Linked DNA regions of Homo sapiens: regions 1, 2 and 3 are each reported to be linked to region 4. The links are microRNA targets in miRTarBase. Many come from high-throughput screens and were not tested one by one. Region 4 holds a microRNA gene; each other region holds the end of a gene's coding sequence.
What was found. The annotated mature microRNA hsa-miR-6842-5p reads UGGGGGUGGUCUCUAGCCAAGG and lies in region 4 at 2,760-2,781, shown strand. An mRNA with a match to its seed (bases 2 to 7 or 8) in the 3' UTR can be bound and repressed. Matches are read on the target gene's strand: a 7mer-m8 pairs with bases 2 to 8, a 7mer-A1 pairs with bases 2 to 7 and ends in A, and an 8mer does both.

Region 1 (4,209 bases), not on the chromosome of region 4:
GGTCACTCGTGGCCTCCCCGTCTCCAGCGTTCCAGTTCTCCTACACAGCTGTCTTCGGTGCCTACACTGCTTTCCTCTTCATCCGCACAGGTTGGTCCTCAGTCCCTCATGGGTCCCTGGGGGCCCACAGGAGCGGGTGGGAGAATGGGAATACTGTTTGTTCTAGGAACAAAAGTTCTTCTACTCCAGTCCTTGAGACAGGCTGAGCCAGAGCCCTCAGCCTGGTGAGGTCTGAGAGGTGGAAAGGAGCAGAGGCCGTGGTGTGTGGGTGGATGGCTGGGGTAGTGGGATCTTGATCTCCTGTTTCAGGGGATGAGGGTCACTAGCCCTGGAAGGGCCAGAGGAGGTGGTAGGGCTGCTCCCTGAGCTGCTGTCTCTTTTCCCCAGGACACCTGATTGGGCCGGTTCTCTGCCATTCCTTCTGCAATTACATGGGTTTCCCAGCTGTTTGCGCGGCCTTGGAGCACCCACAGAGGCGGCCCCTGCTGGCAGGCTATGCCCTGGGTGTGGGACTCTTCCTGCTTCTGCTCCAGCCCCTCACGGACCCCAAGCTCTACGGCAGCCTTCCCCTTTGTGTGCTTTTGGAGCGGGCAGGGGACTCAGAGGCTCCCCTGTGCTCCTGACCTATGCTCCTGGATACGCTATGAACTCTCACCGGCTCCCCAGCCCTCCCCACCAAGGGGTACTGCAGGGGAAGGGCTGGCTGGGGTCCCCGAGATCTCAGGAATTTTTGTAGGGGATTGAAGCCAGAGCTAGTTGCGTCCCAGGGACCAAGAGAAAGAAGCAGATATCCAAAGGGTGCAGCCCCTTTTGAAAGGGGTGTTTACGAGCAGCTGTGAGTGAGGGGACAAGGGGCAGGTCCCAGGAGCCACACACTCCCTTCCTCACTTTGGACTGCTGCTTCTCTTAGCTCCTCTGCCTCTGAAAAGCTGCTCGGGGTTTTTTATTTATAAAACCTCTCCCCACCCCCCACCCCCCAACTTCCTGGGTTTTCTCATTGTCTTTTTGCATCAGTACTTTGTATTGGGATATTAAAGAGATTTAACTTGGGTAACATGGCCTTGGGCCTTTGGGAATCGGTCTATTTGGGATCTTGTGTGAAGACTCTAGGCAGCTCTTGGGAGTGTGCCCACCACCTGTCCCAGCTACCTTGAACACTGACATCTGGGCGGTGCATCCAGGCGGGTAGTTCCCTGGAGTACAGGATGGGCTGGGAGCTCTGGTTGCTGGGAGCCTGTGGCTTCCTCCTTCCTGAACCATGCCCCAAAGTCCTAGTGTGGTTGGCTCTGAGACTGCAGGTACCAGGTGTGAGCCCAGCTCATCCTGGGGCCTGTGCCTTGGCTGACGGGTCAGGGAGTGGGAACCATGGCCCTGGCCCTGACCTCAGCGATGGAGCCTCCGACGTATCTCCTCTGAGGGGAAGATGACTGGCCTGAAGCCTCTGCCAGGACCTCCACAGTCTGCCAGTCTTGTTTTTCACAAGAGGAAATAGGTCCCTGAGTCACCATAAGTAGAGGCTTTTCTGGTTCTCTCCACCTCTGACCTCTGCCCCAGAGGAACCCAGAACACAGGCTGCAGCCCTGAGGGCAGCAGGGACTTTGCCAAGCAACACAGTGACTCCAGGGTCCTTCTCGGCACCTGCAAGTGTTCTGCCTGCTCTCCATCATTTTTGGAAGGGCTCTCGTTTCCCTGCCTGTGCTCTTTTAAAATTAGATTCCTGAAAGAGTATTAGCCCTGGATTACTTGAGGTCAGGAGTCCGAGACCAGCCTGACCAACATGGTGAAACCCGTCTCTACTAAAAATACAAAAAATTAGCCGGGCATAGGCGGGGCGTGGTGGCAGGAGGCTAAGGCAGGACAATCACTTGAACCTGGGAGGCACAGATTCCAGTGAGCCAAAATCACACTACTGTACTCCAGCCTGGGTGACAGAGCGAGACTCCATCTCCGGGGTGGGGGGCAGGGGGGGCGGGGGAGGGAAGAAAGCCCTTTAGGTCCCATTCCCCAATCAAGGAGGTTGTCCCAAGGTCCCTTCTCTGAGGCTGGCCACTGAGGGAAAAAGGATGTGCGGTCACTCCCCCACGATGCCTGCAGGCTGGCCATGACAACGACATCCACCCGGATGGAAGGGGCAGCATCGCAGTCATCTGCCTCCTGGGGTACATCTAGGACATGGCGGTCCAGAAAGGAAGAGGCTCAAGCCCACTGTGAGTTGCCCATCCCAGAGGTTGGACTGGCTCTGGGAGCACTGGGCAGAGGCCTGCTGGGTGCTTCCCATCCAGAGGCTGATTTCCTGCATCGGCCTCCCCACACCCACCCCTCCATCTCAGGAACTGCCCAGCCTCCTGCTCCCTTCACCATCCTCTCCCTACCTGTGGGCAGGTGGGCAGGAGGGCAGTGGTGCAGGCAGGGTTACTGTCCCCACTGCAGGAAAGGGAACTGAGCAGGAGTCTGGAGGGGTGGTCATGGGGAGTGGCAGGGTTAGAACCTGAGACCCTGGACCCGGTGCTCCCCCTCACCTCCCACCAACATTCTCACATCCAGAGCACACACAAGACTCCCGGATCACCATTCCCGAGGGTCTTACCCACTGCCCACAAGGTGGTACCTGCTTGCATTTACCTGCTAACTGAGGTGGGACGCTGGCCTTGGGTTTTAGAAAATAAAGCAGCGGGGTTGGGAGGCGAGTCTGCCAACGGCCTGGGTTTCATCTCTCTCTCTTACTACTTGTGAAGTCCTGGACAAATTATTTAATCTTCCTGTGACTTGATTTCTGTGTCCATAAGAGGATGAAGGTTAATTCCCTGTGTTAATAGGTGTTAAATACTTAGAACAGGCCCCACCCCTCAAGCAAGTTCAGTACTACTAGTCCTGTTTGGGGAGTATACACAGTAGGCACCCAATAGTGACTTAAAACAGGGCCACGATGGTCATTCTCACTACCCTCTGAGGAGAACGACACAACTGACCTGCCCACCCATGGGGAGCTTGAAAGGCAGCCCCCCACTGCTGAGTGGTGCAGGCTGGGGGCTGCACAGGATCCAGCATGGAGGGCAGGGGAAAGCCAGCTTTATTGAGTAAACTTCCCAGGACCTGGGACATCTTAGATCTCCCCTTCCCCCAGGAGATAGGACCCCTAAACCTCCCCTGGGTCCTAGGACCACCTGACCCACCACTTGTAGTCTCCAGTGAGGAGGGGACCCTTATTTGGCAAGAGATGAACATGTAAGCAGCTGTCCGCCGGAGGAAAGGACGATGGCTGAAAGGAATGAACCACCGCAGGCGGTGTCTCTCCTGTCCAGCTGTGGACAGGACCTCCACGGCCCGGCCTTCCTGGCCTCGGGCACTGGCTGGCCTGGGCCTGCCGTGGCAGCACAGCTTCTGTTGAAGGCTTGGGGATGGCCAGGCTGCCGGTCTGGGGCAAGATCACTCGATCTCCAGGATGAGGTCGTCACCTTCCAGTGTCATGTCCTTGGTCACATGAACCTTGCGGACAGTACCCTCCATGGGTGAGGTCACCACAGTCTCCATCTTCATGGCACTGAGCACACACAGGGGCTGGCCCTTGGCCACCTTGGCCCCTGCCACCACTTTGATGTCTATCACCTTCCCAGGCATGGGCGCCCCGATCTGGCCCTTCACGTCCTTTAGGGCCTTGGGGTGGAAGTGCATCTCCTGAAGACACAGGGCAGAGGGGACATGACATCCTGGGCCCAGCCAAGCCCCACCGCCTGGCTGGCCCTGGGGGAGACAATACCTTCATGGCCTGGGTGTCCTTGACCAAGATGGACCGCAGCTGCCCATTGAGCTCAAAGAAGACCTGCCTCTGGCCGGCCCGGTTCAGGTCGCTCACGGCCAGGGCTTTGATGTGCAGCGTCTTGCCCCGCTCCAGCTCCACCTGCAGGGAGGGTGTGCAGACTCAGAGCTGGACGCCAAGGTGGGAGAGCAGTCCCCCGGCCCTGGCCATAGGAAGTCCCCACACTGGGCCTTGGCTCCTCGTTCCTAAAGGCCTAGCTCCCGGTCTCAAGGGTCCTTTCTGCTCCCAAAGCTTGCGAGGCTGGGTGACAGCCAAGCTAAACTCCAGAGCTCTGGGGCAGGGGGCCAGGGTGGAGTGTGGAGAAGCGCCAGAGCCACTGACCTCAAACTCCTCTGCGATCTTGGGTCCCTGCAGGAAGAGGCGAGTATTCAGGCTATCCAGGGGGCCAAAGG
Region 2 (4,209 bases), not on the chromosome of region 4:
TGCAGTTCTGCTGTGTGGCTCTGATAGGAGCTGGGGCTCAAGGTCTGAGCACTCCTGTCTGCGCACCTCCCCCACCAGGAGTCTCTGCCTGTGCAGACACTCGGAGGGCCCGGGAGGCTGTGCCCCCCCAACCCCAACCGGGCCCTGCTCACCCCCGCACCCCCCCCACCCACCAGGCCCTGCTCACCCCCTGGCCCCCCTCCCAACCTCCACCGGGCCCTGCTCACCCCCTGCCCCGCCCCCCCCACCTCCACCAGGCCCTGCTCACCCCCTGCCCCCTCTTCCAACCTCCACCTGGCCCTGCTCACCACCTGCCCCCCCCACCTCCACCAGGCCCTGCTCACCCCCTGCCCCGCCCCCCAACCCACCAGGCCCTGCTCACCCCCTGCCCTGCCTCTGCAGGTCCACAGCAAGGACAAGAAGTATGTGTGCAAGGTGTGCAGCCGCGTCTTCATGTCCGCCGCCAGCGTGGGCATCAGGCATGGCTCCAGGCGCCACGGTGTGTGCACCGACTGTGCTGGCCGCGGCATGGCCGGGCCCCTGGACCATGGCGGCGGAGGCGGCGAGGGCTCTCCAGAGGCGCTGTTCCCAGGCGACGGGCCCTATCTGGAGGACCCTGAGGACCCACGAGGGGAGGCGGAGGAGCTGGGCGAGGACGACGAGGGCCTGGCCCCTGAGGATGCGCTGTTGGCGGACGACAAGGATGAGGAAGACTCGCCGCGGCCGCGCAGCCCCCCAGGAGGCCCTGACAAGGACTTCGCCTGGCTCTCCTAGGCCCGCCCGCCGGCAGGGTCGGTGGCTGCCTCGCTCCGTCCACCCGTGTGTGTGTCCGGTGGGTCTCCACTGCGGGGCCAGGGCCACGCTCACCCCTCTCGCGGCCCCTCCTCTGCTTCCCCCTGAACCCACCCCCCACGGAAACCAGCCCTGCGGGCTAAGCAGGTGCGACCCCAGCAAGAGGGGTGCTCTGGGACCAGACATGAAGTGAGTTGGGGGAGGGCACAGGGTGGGTTTGAGTGAAGGGAGAGCACGGTCCTAAGTCCCCAGCAGGTGGTGCGGGTGTGTGAGTGGCCCCTGTGATGGCCAGCCTGGCTTGGACACGTGATGGGCCTGTGGCCGGGTCCAGTGGGCACTGGGCGGGGTGGTGTGTTCGGCCCAGAGGCCCCTGGCCTGAGCAGGTGCAGAGTTTTACAGACACCCGGTCAGCCCGGCTGGAGCCCGCCCTCCCCTCCCCTAGCAGCCAGGTCACTGCCTGTGGCTGCAGCCGTGGCCCGTGGTGCAGCCGTGGCCCATGGCAGCCTGTAGAATCCAGGTGCACAGAGAGCCCTGCCACCGTCTTACCTCTGGGCTTTGGTGCTTAACACACAACACAGCTGCAGACCCTGCTGGAGGCCGAGGGCTCCAGGTGCTATCTTAGGTGGACACAGCCCTGGGGGCTCCTTCCAGGAGGGGACCCTCAGCCCTGTGCCCCCCACCACTTCAGGCCACACCAGGTTCCCTCTGCAAGGGCCTCGGCTCAGTCGTGTGCACTTCCTCGGAGAGCCTTGGGCTGCCACGTCCACCCCGGGCTCTGCCCGTCCTGTTCTGCCCATGGCCCAGCCCGGCCGCTCCTGCTGACCCCTCCTGGACGGGCTGGAGCTGGGCTCCTGCCTTTGCTGCTAACACTGGAGGCGGTGTTCCTAACTGCAGTGTGCTGCTTACACCTCCCCGCGTGGGTAACCAAATTTTTAAGTAGTCAGAGACATATCGAGGTAGTTACATAAAATTATTTTGTTTGGCATTATTTTTCTCACTCGAAGAAACTATATAGGGTTGTTTTTCCTTTAGCTTGTGCTCAAGTCCTCTTGCTGTGTTTTCAGAAGCACTCACATGTTCTTTCTTTTCCTGAGTGAAAAGCAAAGGTCCCACGGTGTGTGCTGTGGTGCACCGCCTGGCTTTGGGGGTCCCGGAGGCAGGCTGCCTAGACTCACAGCCTCGGGACCGTTGCCACGGCCTGTCTTCTCGTTCAGGCCTGCCTCTGACAGCACTCACCATGAGGACATTCCATCCTTCACCCCCTCCTCTGGCACAGGCCACCACTGCGGTGCTGTGCCTTCAGATGGGAGGTGGGCGCGGTGGCCTCCTCCTTCCCTCCAGGACCTGCCCGTGTGAAGACCCCCCGGAGTGCTGAGCTTCAGGGCTGCGTGGAAAGAGTTTTTACTCTCTTTTTCTAGCCTGTATACCAGGCTTTTCCCCACATTGTCAGGTAGAGCACCAGCTTCCCTGACCGCTGCTGCTCGGGGAGGGCTGGGGCTGGCCGGGGGTCCTGTGGAGGAGTACATGGAGGACTCCAGGTACAGCGCAGGAGTCACGGCTTTTGTTTTTTGACATTGGCCCCCGGTTCTACCAATGACAGGGTGCCCTGGCTGGAGCTGTCATCACACACACCCCTCAGCTCGGAGGCTGTGGGCTCCTCAAAGCTGGAGAAAGAGGCCAAGATTTTTCTGCACACGGAGTGTGGGGATAGGAGCCGGGCCAAGCGCTGGCCCCTCAGCGGTGAGCCCTGCCCACTCTTACCGAGCAAGGTGGGTGGCTCTGGCACGAGTCCCCCAGGGGGAGAGCATGGCTACCAGGGAGCTGCAGCGGAGCCCTCCAGCCCTCACCCCAGGCCAGCCCCACCCCGGCCTCTTTGAGAATTCTCAGAACTTTGTACCTTTCCCCTGATTTTTAAACCCTTTTTCTAAACAGACTGACTTTCTTACAAAATGCATTTGGAAACCAGACCTTTGCTACCCACCAATGTCTCTGGGTTTTGTACCAGTCCCTGCTCTCAGGCCACCCTGCCCAGGACCCAGGCCCGCCTCCCCCTCCACACTCAGGATGTCCTGCTCCATCTGGCCGGCTCACTCCGTGTGGCCTGCCTTTGCTGACCGTTTTGGGGTTCCCCGCCGGAGCTACAGGGGCATTTTCTTCCCTAAAACCAACAGTGTCCCACTGACCTCCCCAAGTGTTTGCTGCGTGGCAGATTTCCTGTTCTTGTTCGCAGTTTGCCGACTGAAGAGTGTGGGATTTCCGAGGCCCAGGTGAGCACGTCCATCTCAGGAGGCGTGGAGGGAAAAGACATGTCATGAAGGGTTTTTTTTATGTGACTGATTTTTTTTTAAATCGATGTTCAAACTAATAAATATTTTTTTATGAAGAGGAAAAATGTGTAGATTACATTTCACATTTTGTATTTTTGTTTGTGTCTGTTTGTATTTTGGTGTTTACAACACCAAAGTGGGAAATACAGTCCATTGGGGATGGTGTTATTTGGGGGCGGGGAGGGGGCAGGGACACCACGATTTTTCTGTCAAGCTCTGGATCCTGACCAGGTTGTACACTGGGGCTCTCTGAGCTTTGGGACACAGGACACTGCCAGGGCTACGTAGGGAACTGACTCAGAAGACGCAGCTTACTGCTTCCAACTTTGCACATCTTCCTCTTTAAAAAACTGAGAAAATGCAAAAACTGGAACTTTTTGCAATATTATAAAAGAAGTAATCTTATTTTAGCTCATTCTGTGACATGTGCGACTCTTAAGAAAGCCATACTTAATGGTGGTGGTTTTTTTTAGATCTTATATTGTGTTTTGTATGCAGCCCTTTTAGAACTACTTGTAGTGAGGGTGCTGTGTGTGCTTTTCTTAAATATTTATTTTTTTCAACATGCTTTCAACCTGTCAACAAAAACAAAACACACAAAAAAAGGGCAGTGTTTGAAGATTGTTGATTTTTTTCTGGGGATAATCTATATTATATTGACTTCCTATTACTTATTATAAACCTGTGTTTGTATTGGAGATGTGTCTACTATTGGGGGAAGAGGTTCTCGTAATCGCTCGGTGGGAAATCATGGCTCTGCCGTCCTGCCTCTCTGTGGCCGTGGGTTCACGTGGCCTCTGCGGTGAGTCTCCAAGTTTCTGCCTAGGCGCCTGTGCGTTTCCTTTCTGTGACGGGATTAGCTTAGACATCCTTGCAAAGCGATCACTTTCAATAAATTGGGAAATTGCTGCTCCAGCAGATGCCTCCTGCGTCTCAGATGATCCTTCCTCCGGCCTCGCCTGGGGTGGCGGCGGCCGACGGGTGACCCTCGGCCCTCTGTGGGCAGCTGCCAGACTCCACCCACTTGCCCACCACAGGGTCCCAGCCCCACGGCCTTCCTCCCGAGAGGCAGACAAAGCTTCTGGAAAAA
Region 3 (4,193 bases), not on the chromosome of region 4:
GGCAGCAGTGACAGCACACTGAAGGTGTGGGATGTGAAGGCCCAGAAGCTGGCCATGGACCTGCCCGGCCACGCGGATGAGGTAGGGCCAACCCTCAGGCAAAGGAGGGACTGGGATTGGAGCCTGGCTGGCTGTCTCCCTCTCACCACCCCACCTGCCTTCCTCTGCCTCCCTTTAGGTATATGCTGTTGACTGGAGTCCAGATGGCCAGAGAGTGGCAAGTGGTGGGAAGGACAAATGCCTCCGGATGTGAGTGTGGGGGAAGTGGTGGTTGGCATACACAGCCCTCCTACCCCTAAGGTCCTTCTGTGCACACTTTCCCTTACAGCATAGAATTCCGCAGGGCCGTCCAGGTGCTCAGACTGTCTTGAGGAGGCGTGTGGAGCCAGATTCTCAGTGGGCAAGTGGGAGGGCCACAAGTGGGAGGGCCACCGGAACAACAGAGGCCACAGGACACCTCGTAGAGGGCGCGTCCAGGTCTTTCTGTCAGTGGGCAAGTGGGAGGGCCACCGGAACAACAGGGGCCACAGGACACCTTGTAGAGGGCGCATCCAGGTCTTTCTGTCACTAGACTTCAGAGTCGCAAGACCTGAGTTCAAATCCTGGTTCTGCCATGGAGTAATCACAGAGAACTTGGTTAATCAGTCTCTTGGGAATTATCAAACCTTCACAGACAGGATCAAAAATAGGAGGGTCAACACTCTGGAAGACAAAGTGTTGTGTGCTTATAAGGGATTGTGACTGTTTGCTGGTGGGCATCCCGAGGGCCAGGCCCTGGGTGGAGGTCCTGGTGGCAGCAGGCAGTGAGTGGGCAGCCTGAGTTTGGGTGGGCAGAGCAGGGACGGTCACCTGGCTCTTGGTGACTCTGAGGGTGGACCACAGGCCGTCCGTCTGTTGACACTGGGATTATATGACGGCCTCCCTTTCCTAAGGTGGAATCCCCATCCTGACACCCTTCCCTTCTCCACAGATGGAGGAGATGAGACGGCCCGAAGTTCTCTCTGACCCCCACCTCGACTCGGCCTCTGCCAGCTGCCTTCCCTGCCAGAGAACAAAGGCTGAGATGGCAGTGCACACACCCTCCCCACCAGTGGGGACCTGAGAATGCGTGTGGCCTGCTGTCCTCGATAGACCGGAATGGGGTTTTCCCACAGATCCCCGCCTGTGGCACACCCCAGAGCCAGAAATCGAAGGTCACAGGAAGTTGTCACTGAACTTGGCCCGTGTCTGCTACTCTGTACCTTGCTGGTACAGACAGGGGTGGTGGGCAGCCAGGCTCTATGAGTGGGCCCCTAGTGTCAGCTCTGTACAGGGTCAGATCCCAGGTTCTATGACCAAATAAGTAACTTAAGTTTTGTGTGTTGGGTTCTAATTCCTTGTCCTAGAATCCCCATGACTCAATCAAGGACTGTGCTAAATGAGATTGTCCAGCCCCCGCCCTTGCACTGGACTACGCCAAAACCACACTGACCAGGCACTTGCCTTCCCTCTCTTCCCCCGTGTTGGTAAGAGAGAGGCCAGTTGTGATAGTGGCCAAGGAGAATCTAGGGCTGTATTGTTGTCCACTGCAGTAGGCACCGGCCACATGTGACTGCTGGCATGAAATAGAAGTGCAGTTCCTCCATCGCACTGGGTAAGGCCTCCAGTATTGGACAGCACACAGAAAGGTTTTCATCATCAAGAGAGTTCTGCTGGTCAGCCCTGCTCCAGGGGATGCCTCTGCCTTCGCATAGCACACTGCTTGAGGCCCTGCCAGGCACCAAGCACTGCCCTGGGCCCATGGGATAGAGCGGGGAAGGTGATGGCTCTTCCAGAGGATTCCCTCAGATGGGGAGGCAGCAGTATGAGCTCTGAGCAGAAGTGGGTATTGTTGATACAGAGGAAGTTCTTTGCCACGAGAACTTTCAAGCAGTGAAAGGAATTCCCATCAGGACTCAGACCCCAGGCCGAGATCTTGCCCTGAATGTACCCTGCCTCTGCTTTCTCCTGCATCCCATGCTAAGCAGGGTCATGGTCTGAACTACTCAGATTGGATTTCCAAACCATCCTTGTATAAACTGCTCAGAACTAGCATCTTGCTCCTTCTTACCCTCCTCCACCCTTGTCTGTGCTTTTGGGTTTTGCGCGTCACCTAGCTGTGGTGCTTGGCCTCCACCTTGCACATATCTGCAGTGAGGCTACATAAGAAGCGAACAAAACTATCAGCCACTGAGCTCCTTGGTGCCAGCTGTTTGTCTGCTGTGCTCTCAGACTGCACCAGGCCTGGAAGGTTCTCAAGCTCCAAAACTTTTGATGAGGAAACAACATAAGAAATGATTAGCCCATGCCCTCACATCTAGTAAGAGAAAGCTGGGATTAAACCAGGCCCTGCCCCAAAGCTTATTGTGCACTTTGTACCACATCCCTCCGTCCAGAGCTCAAGCTAGTTTGACAGTTCATGGGCCACCACGTCTGTCCATGACAGCTATTTCTGTATTTTTCTGGTGTAAGAGCCTTTTAGTCTTAGAGCACCAGTCTCCCTGTTCCCCTACCCCGCCCCACTGGGGAAGGGGTGATGGCAGCATCCTATTGCCTAGCTGCCTGTTTTCTATCTCCCCACCCATGTAGACTCTGTCCTGGTGGAAGCTAGGAGGTGGGTGCCAGCCAGCCCATCTGAGGCTGTCTGCAGCATAAAGCAGACTTTAGGGTGCTGGATGACCTGCAGTTCTTTAATGAGGGACCTAGACCCAGCCCAGATTTGGAGGAGGAGGGAGTCTAGCAGCTGTGGGCAGTGGCTGAGCCTGGCATGGCCTGGCCTGAGATGCCTCCAGGTGAATGGGGCCCCTATGTAGCCTTGGCCCCAGCCCAGGGGTGGGGTGCCCATACCACTCTGCCAGACCCCGGGCCCGCAGGGTGCTGGTGGTATGGTAGGTCTCATGGCTCTGGTTTCTGAGGGCCTGGGGTTGAAGCTGAAAGTAGGTGAGGGGTGTCCTGGGGCCCTCCCCCTTAACAGGGAAATAGGTATTCCAGATCCTCCAGCCTCCGCATCTCCTCCGGCCCGATGGACACGATCTTTTGCCGGGGTTCCTTGCGCCGCACGGTGATCTGGATGGGGTAGTTCTCAGGAAAGCTGCTGAAGTCAGTGGCCAGGGTTGCAAACTGAAGTGAAACAAGAAAACCCTTCAGAGTTCCTTCCCAGATCTGAACCTGGCTCTCTCTCTGTCTCTATCACCCCTTTTTTTTCTGTCTGCTGACTCAGACCTTAAACAGCCTTATCCAACCTAGCCATTGACGCAGGAAACAGGTGCAAAGATGCATGACTCAAGCCTGTACCTCCTCATTATGGGATATTTCCAACCAAAGGGCTGTCTGTACTCAGGCCTCTATACCCCCATACCCCTACCCCATACCCAGGCTGTTCCCTTCTTCGTCCCCCTTTAGCCTCTTGTCTTCCCTATTTCTTTCAATGCCCTTGACTTCCCAGCCTACTCACAATCATGGGCACTGAATTGCAGAGTCTAAAAACCAATGGCTTTGGAAGGGGAACATTATAGTGATGTTGAAAAATACATTCGTTTGCATTCCTAGTGGGCCCCAGAGTGGCTTAATCCTTAAACCTCCCAGAAGCATGCATTCTGGAATTGATGCTTCTTGACCCAGGCAGAAGGAAAGCTAGCCAGATGAGTCATGTGGGCATAGGGGTGTTCCCAACCTCCAAAGCCCTGGTTCCCTGGCTTTGGACTTCTCTCCACCCCCAAGGCCCCTCTTTTCCCAGGGCTCACTTTGTAGGGCTTGCACCACTTCCCCACCCCAGCTGTGTTGGCTGCACGGACACTGAGGCAGTAACACGTGTTAGGCTTTAGCTCCATCAGCTTGACAGTAGTGCCCAAAATCTTGTTGAAGATCCATGGACGATTCTTTGCCTCGGGCAACTCATTCTCCTGTGTCTTGGCCACCTCCTGTAACAGGAGCTGGTAGAAACTGACCGGCTGCTTGCCCAAGGCGTAGGTCCAGGAAATCTAGGGGAAGAGAGAGCCCCGAGGCTTCCTCAGATATGTCCTGTCCTTCCTGTCCCTTCACCCTCCCAACTGGGGTCAGGACGTCCCATGCCCATCCCCTGCTCCTGCTGGGGCCCAGGCAGGTCAGATGGAAGGTGCAAGGTACTGCAGCACTGAGTGTGGAACCCCTGCCCCGAAGCATGTACTACTCTCCTG
Region 4 (4,000 bases):
TCCGTATCGAGGCCGTATCAGCTCTGCGGCCCCAGTACTGGGAAGCTACCCCTCGCCCCCTCAACCTCCTTCGTAGGGTTACGGGGAGTCTCCCTTGAGACAATGGGTATGGGTTTTAGGTCATAGATCACAGCTGCTTTTGGGGCAAAGGCCCTGGGGATCATTTTCGAGCAGTGGGCAGTCTCTCAGCGAGACCCTAAGGGAAGGAGTGAGACCTGGGAGGAGCAGGCATTGCTCACACGGCCCATCCCCTCCCCCAGCCCAAACAGTTCCGGAAGATGATCCAGCAGACCTTCCAGCAGTACGCCTCGCTCAGGGAGGAGGAGTGCGTCATGAAGTTCTTCAACACTCTCGCCGGCTTCGCCAACATCGACCAGGAGACCTACCGCTGTGAACTCATTGTAATGGCGGGCTCTCTTGATCCTCTCCCTGACCTGGATTCCAGGCCTCTCGGAAAAGGGGGCCAGGAGGGGGCAGGGAGAGGCTGCAATCGCTGCAGATTCTCACTCAGGCAGCAGGACCTCGCTGACCTGCCGTCGGTGGAAGTCAAAAGCATCCCCTTGCCTGAAGCAGGCACTGAAATGTTGGCCTCCAGCTCTGGGAGGTGGGCAGGACAGGCAAGGTGTCAGGAGGGGAAGATCCATATGGCCAGGGTTTCGGTGAGAAGGAGCTGGAGACCCAGGAAACAGTGGCTTGTGTCTAGCTTAGGGAGCTTTTCTTCAAGTTTCTGAAGAATGGGGAGGACAGCTCTGGAACAACAGTCCACTCTCCTTTTATTCCAGCAAGGATGGAACATTACTGTGGACCTGGTCATTGGCCCTAAAGGGATCCGCCAGCTGACTAGTCAGGACGCAAAGGTAGAGAGACCCGGGGCAGCCCCACCCAGCCCCAGGCGGGGAGGTCGTCCCCTCTCTGCTGCCTCCCGCCCTGTCTGCCCCTTCAGTTCTTCTTGCCCCTGTTGCTGAAAGCAGAGTTCTTCTAAGGCCATGCCCTGGCGTGAGCAGCAGTGGAGAGCATTTAGAGATGGCAGCATGGGACAGATGGCCCTTTACATCCCTGTGACTGTCATCTGCACAGAGGTGGTGGGAGGGGGAGACAAGGCCTCAATGATTACTCGCAGAGCTCAGCAGTGTTGCTCTTTCAGTGACAATATAAGGCATGATTCCCTTGGAAGTCAGGGGACCTGGGTCCAGTCCTGGCTCCACTGCCAGCTTGGCACATGATGTTGAGCAAGTCCTGGCTTTCTCTAGACCTCATTTTCTCCTTGGCATAGGGAGGGGCTTGGTCTAGATCAAGCCTGTGGTCCCAGGATGGCTTTGAATGCAGCCCACCACAAATTCGTAAACTTTCTTAAAACATGTTGAGATTTTTTTGTGCGATTTTTTTTTTTACCTTCATCAAGTAGTGTTAGTGTATTTTATGTGTGGTCCAAGACAATTCTTCTTCCAATGTGGCCCAGGGAAGCCAAAAGATTGGACACCCCTGAACTAGAGGATCCTTCTAGCCTTAATAGTGTTTGATTCTCTCTTCATCTCCCAGAGAAACTCCCAGTTCCTCCTCACCCCGGCTCCCCCATACTGACCAATCTGCATGGCCTAGTCCTGGTAGTGGGATGGTCTGAAGCTCCCCCTTCTTTTCCCACAGCCCACCTGCCTGGCCGAGTTCAAGCAGATCAGGTCCATCAGGTGCCTCCCGCTGGAGGAGGGCCAGGCAGTACTTCAGCTGGGCATTGAAGGTGCCCCCCAGGTGAGTGTCTCTGGGCACTGGGCACCTGGCAGCTCTGCAGGGGGTATAATGGCAGATTGGGAGCTCTTGCTCAGACCAAAAGTCTGTGACACACAGGAAGCCAGGAGCTTCCTGGCTTTGGGGATCGTGTTAAGAAAACTGCACCAAGTTCTTAGACAAAAGGTACCAGGATGATGATAAATTGTAGGAAAATTCGGGAAACAATTTTTTTAATGTCAGGAGAAGAAATTGGGAAGGTTTTCAGGTAGTGGAATGTTCAAGGTGACCAGAAATCAGGTATAAATCACAGGCCTAAGTTATACCAAGAGAACAAGGATGCGGACATCAAGACCTCAAAAACATGGGTTTTTTTGTTTGTTTGTTTGTTTGTTTTTTACAGTAAAACACCCAGAGAGACCTCAGGCTGCATCTCTCTCTCCTTTCACCCATCTGTGCCCTGCCCCATTGCCTCCCCTTCCTCTTTCTTTCTTTCTTTCTTTTTTTTAGACAAAGTCTCACTCTGTCACCCAGGCTACAGTGCAGTGGTGCAATCTCAGCTCACTGTAACCTCCACCTCCACAGTTCAAGAGATTCTCCTGCCTCAGCCTCCTGAGTAGCTGGGACTACAGGTGCATGCCACAAGGCCCAACTAATTTTTGTACTTTTAGTAGACACAGGGTTTCACCATGTTGGCCAGGCTGGTCTCAAACTCCTGACCTCAGGTGATCTGCCTGCCTCGGCCTCCTAAAGTGCTGGGATTATAGGCATGAGCCACTGTGCCCAGCCCCCTCTTCCATTTTCTCAGTTTCTGCTTCTATTTATTGAGCACCTACTAGGTACCAGGCATCGTGCTATGTGCTCAGAGGCCAAAATAAGTGAGGCCTGGGACTGGCCTTTGGAGAGCATGGGCGTACAGGTGAAAGGGGTGACAGAGTGCAGTCTGGACTCCAGGGCAGGGCCCCAGGAGAGGTGCAGACAGCATTGGCATCCAGGCAAGGGTTGTGGCAGGGGTCCTGCCATCTCTTCTCCAGCCCTGGGGGTGGTCTCTAGCCAAGGCTCTGGGGTCTCACCCTTGGCTGGTCTCTGCTCCGCAGGCCTTGTCCATCAAAACCTCATCCCTAGCAGAGGCTGAGAACATGGCTGACCTCATAGACGGCTACTGCCGGCTGCAGGGTGAGCACCAAGGCTCTCTCATCATCCATCCTAGGAAAGGTGGGTTCCATTTAAAGGTAAAGTGGCTGGACCACGGGTGGCAGCACACCCGAGTCCCCAGAGGCGGAGTGGCAGAAGCTAAGCCACTGATGGATAAGTGAATGAGGATTCTTCCCCCACAGCCCAGCGGGAAGCTTCCAGTGGGCCCATCTTAGGCTTTAAGCCCTGGCCGGTCCACCTACCCACAGCCCTGCTAATCAAGGTCCACATAGAGGCAGCTTCTGGAGGAGAGGCGTTTTAGCCCCAGCAAGCTCAAAGCCATTGCTAGTAGAAGGCTGGTCCCGCCTGTGTGTGTCTCCATCTTGGGTCAGATTCAGGAAGCAGGGGTCACAGCTGGAGCACGTGAAATCTGGCCTGAGGCAGCCTCCAAGGAGGATTCCACTTCTGGCCCAAGGCCTCACTAGCTCCCAGGCTAGGAGAGAATGGAATTAGGGGCTGGGATGGGAGGAGAGTCCCTTGTAGGAATAGTGAGGAGGTCAGTCACCCATCCAGGTCCCTGTGTCCCCAGCTCCAACCTCCTCCTTCCTCCTCTCTTCCTAGATGGTGAGAAGCGGAACAGCCTGCCCCAGATCCCCATGCTGTGAGTACAATGGGGTGCAGAGGACAGGGCCCTGAGCTCAGCCTGTGCTGCTGAGAGGAATAAGAATAAACTGGGAGTCCCCACCTCCATAGTTTCTGGCTTTCAGGCCCAGGAGAACCCTGAAAAAAGATGATCTTTCCCTCCCAATAAATACCTGCAGGAATATTCCTATGCCTTCATGCCACCTGGTGTTATCCTGGGGGGTTGCTGCTGTCCCCCAACTCCAGCCCCCAGCAGCCTGGGCTGTGCTCCCAGGTCATTGCTAATTTGGACAGACTACTTCTCCACAGGGGGCAGGAGGAGAGGGCGGGCCGAGGCTGCCCAGGGGAACATTACCGGCCTCTGAGCTCACCTGGCTTCTGCTCTCTCACCTCCTACAGAAACCTGGAGGCCCGGCGGTCCCACCTCTCAGAGAGCTGCAGCATAGGTGAGCTGCCCGCTGCATCCTCCACCTGCTCCAGTTGCCTCCCGTCTGCTTGCTCC

Region 1: the mRNA of RCE1 is a reported target of hsa-miR-6842-5p. Seed matches in the 3' UTR shown: 7mer-m8 at 964-970 and 7mer-m8 at 971-977.
Region 2: miRTarBase lists ZBTB46 as a target of hsa-miR-6842-5p. Seed matches in the 3' UTR shown: 7mer-m8 at 904-910 and 7mer-m8 at 2,049-2,055.
Region 3: miRTarBase lists NLE1 as a target of hsa-miR-6842-5p. Seed matches in the 3' UTR shown: 7mer-A1 at 1,005-1,011, 7mer-A1 at 3,367-3,373 and 8mer at 3,729-3,736.

Annotation. Positions count from the first base shown.
Region 1 is chr11:66,845,473-66,849,681 of GRCh38, forward strand. It overlaps RCE1 (Ras converting CAAX endopeptidase 1), which reads left to right. Exons shown (of 8, transcript NM_005133.3): 7 at 28-90; 8 at 388-1,080. The coding sequence ends at 623. It overlaps PC (pyruvate carboxylase), which reads right to left. Exons shown (of 23, transcript NM_001040716.2): 21 at 4,139-4,209; 22 at 3,758-3,898; 23 at 2,948-3,675. The coding sequence ends at 3,427. Among named protein-coding and RNA genes, the nearest start is that of RCE1, 4.1 kb to the left of the region's middle.
Region 2 is chr20:63,743,495-63,747,703 of GRCh38, reverse strand. It overlaps ZBTB46 (zinc finger and BTB domain containing 46), which reads left to right. Exons shown (of 5, transcript NM_001369741.1): 5 at 403-4,034. The coding sequence ends at 774. It overlaps SLC2A4RG (SLC2A4 regulator), which reads right to left. Exons shown (of 8, transcript NM_020062.4): 8 at 3,654-4,209. It overlaps ZBTB46-AS2 (ZBTB46 antisense RNA 2), which reads right to left and starts at 3,879. Exons shown (of 3, transcript NR_186425.1): 1 at 2,976-3,879; 2 at 2,029-2,176; 3 at 1,753-1,881.
Region 3 is chr17:35,129,227-35,133,419 of GRCh38, reverse strand. NLE1 (notchless homolog 1) reads left to right here. Exons shown (of 13, transcript NM_018096.5): 11 at 1-81; 12 at 179-249; 13 at 971-4,193. The coding sequence ends at 983. It overlaps FNDC8 (fibronectin type III domain containing 8), which reads right to left. Exons shown (of 4, transcript NM_017559.4): 3 at 3,762-3,998; 4 at 2,688-3,138. The coding sequence ends at 2,986. Among named protein-coding and RNA genes, the nearest start is that of FNDC8, 9.7 kb to the right of the region's middle.
Region 4 is chr8:27,430,616-27,434,615 of GRCh38, forward strand. MIR6842 (microRNA 6842) reads left to right here and starts at 2,755; the gene lies at 2,755-2,819. It overlaps PTK2B (protein tyrosine kinase 2 beta), which reads left to right. Exons shown (of 31, transcript NM_173176.3): 8 at 261-401; 9 at 783-857; 10 at 1,645-1,746; 11 at 2,820-2,937; 12 at 3,478-3,517; 13 at 3,898-3,944. RefSeq lists an enhancer at 1-436.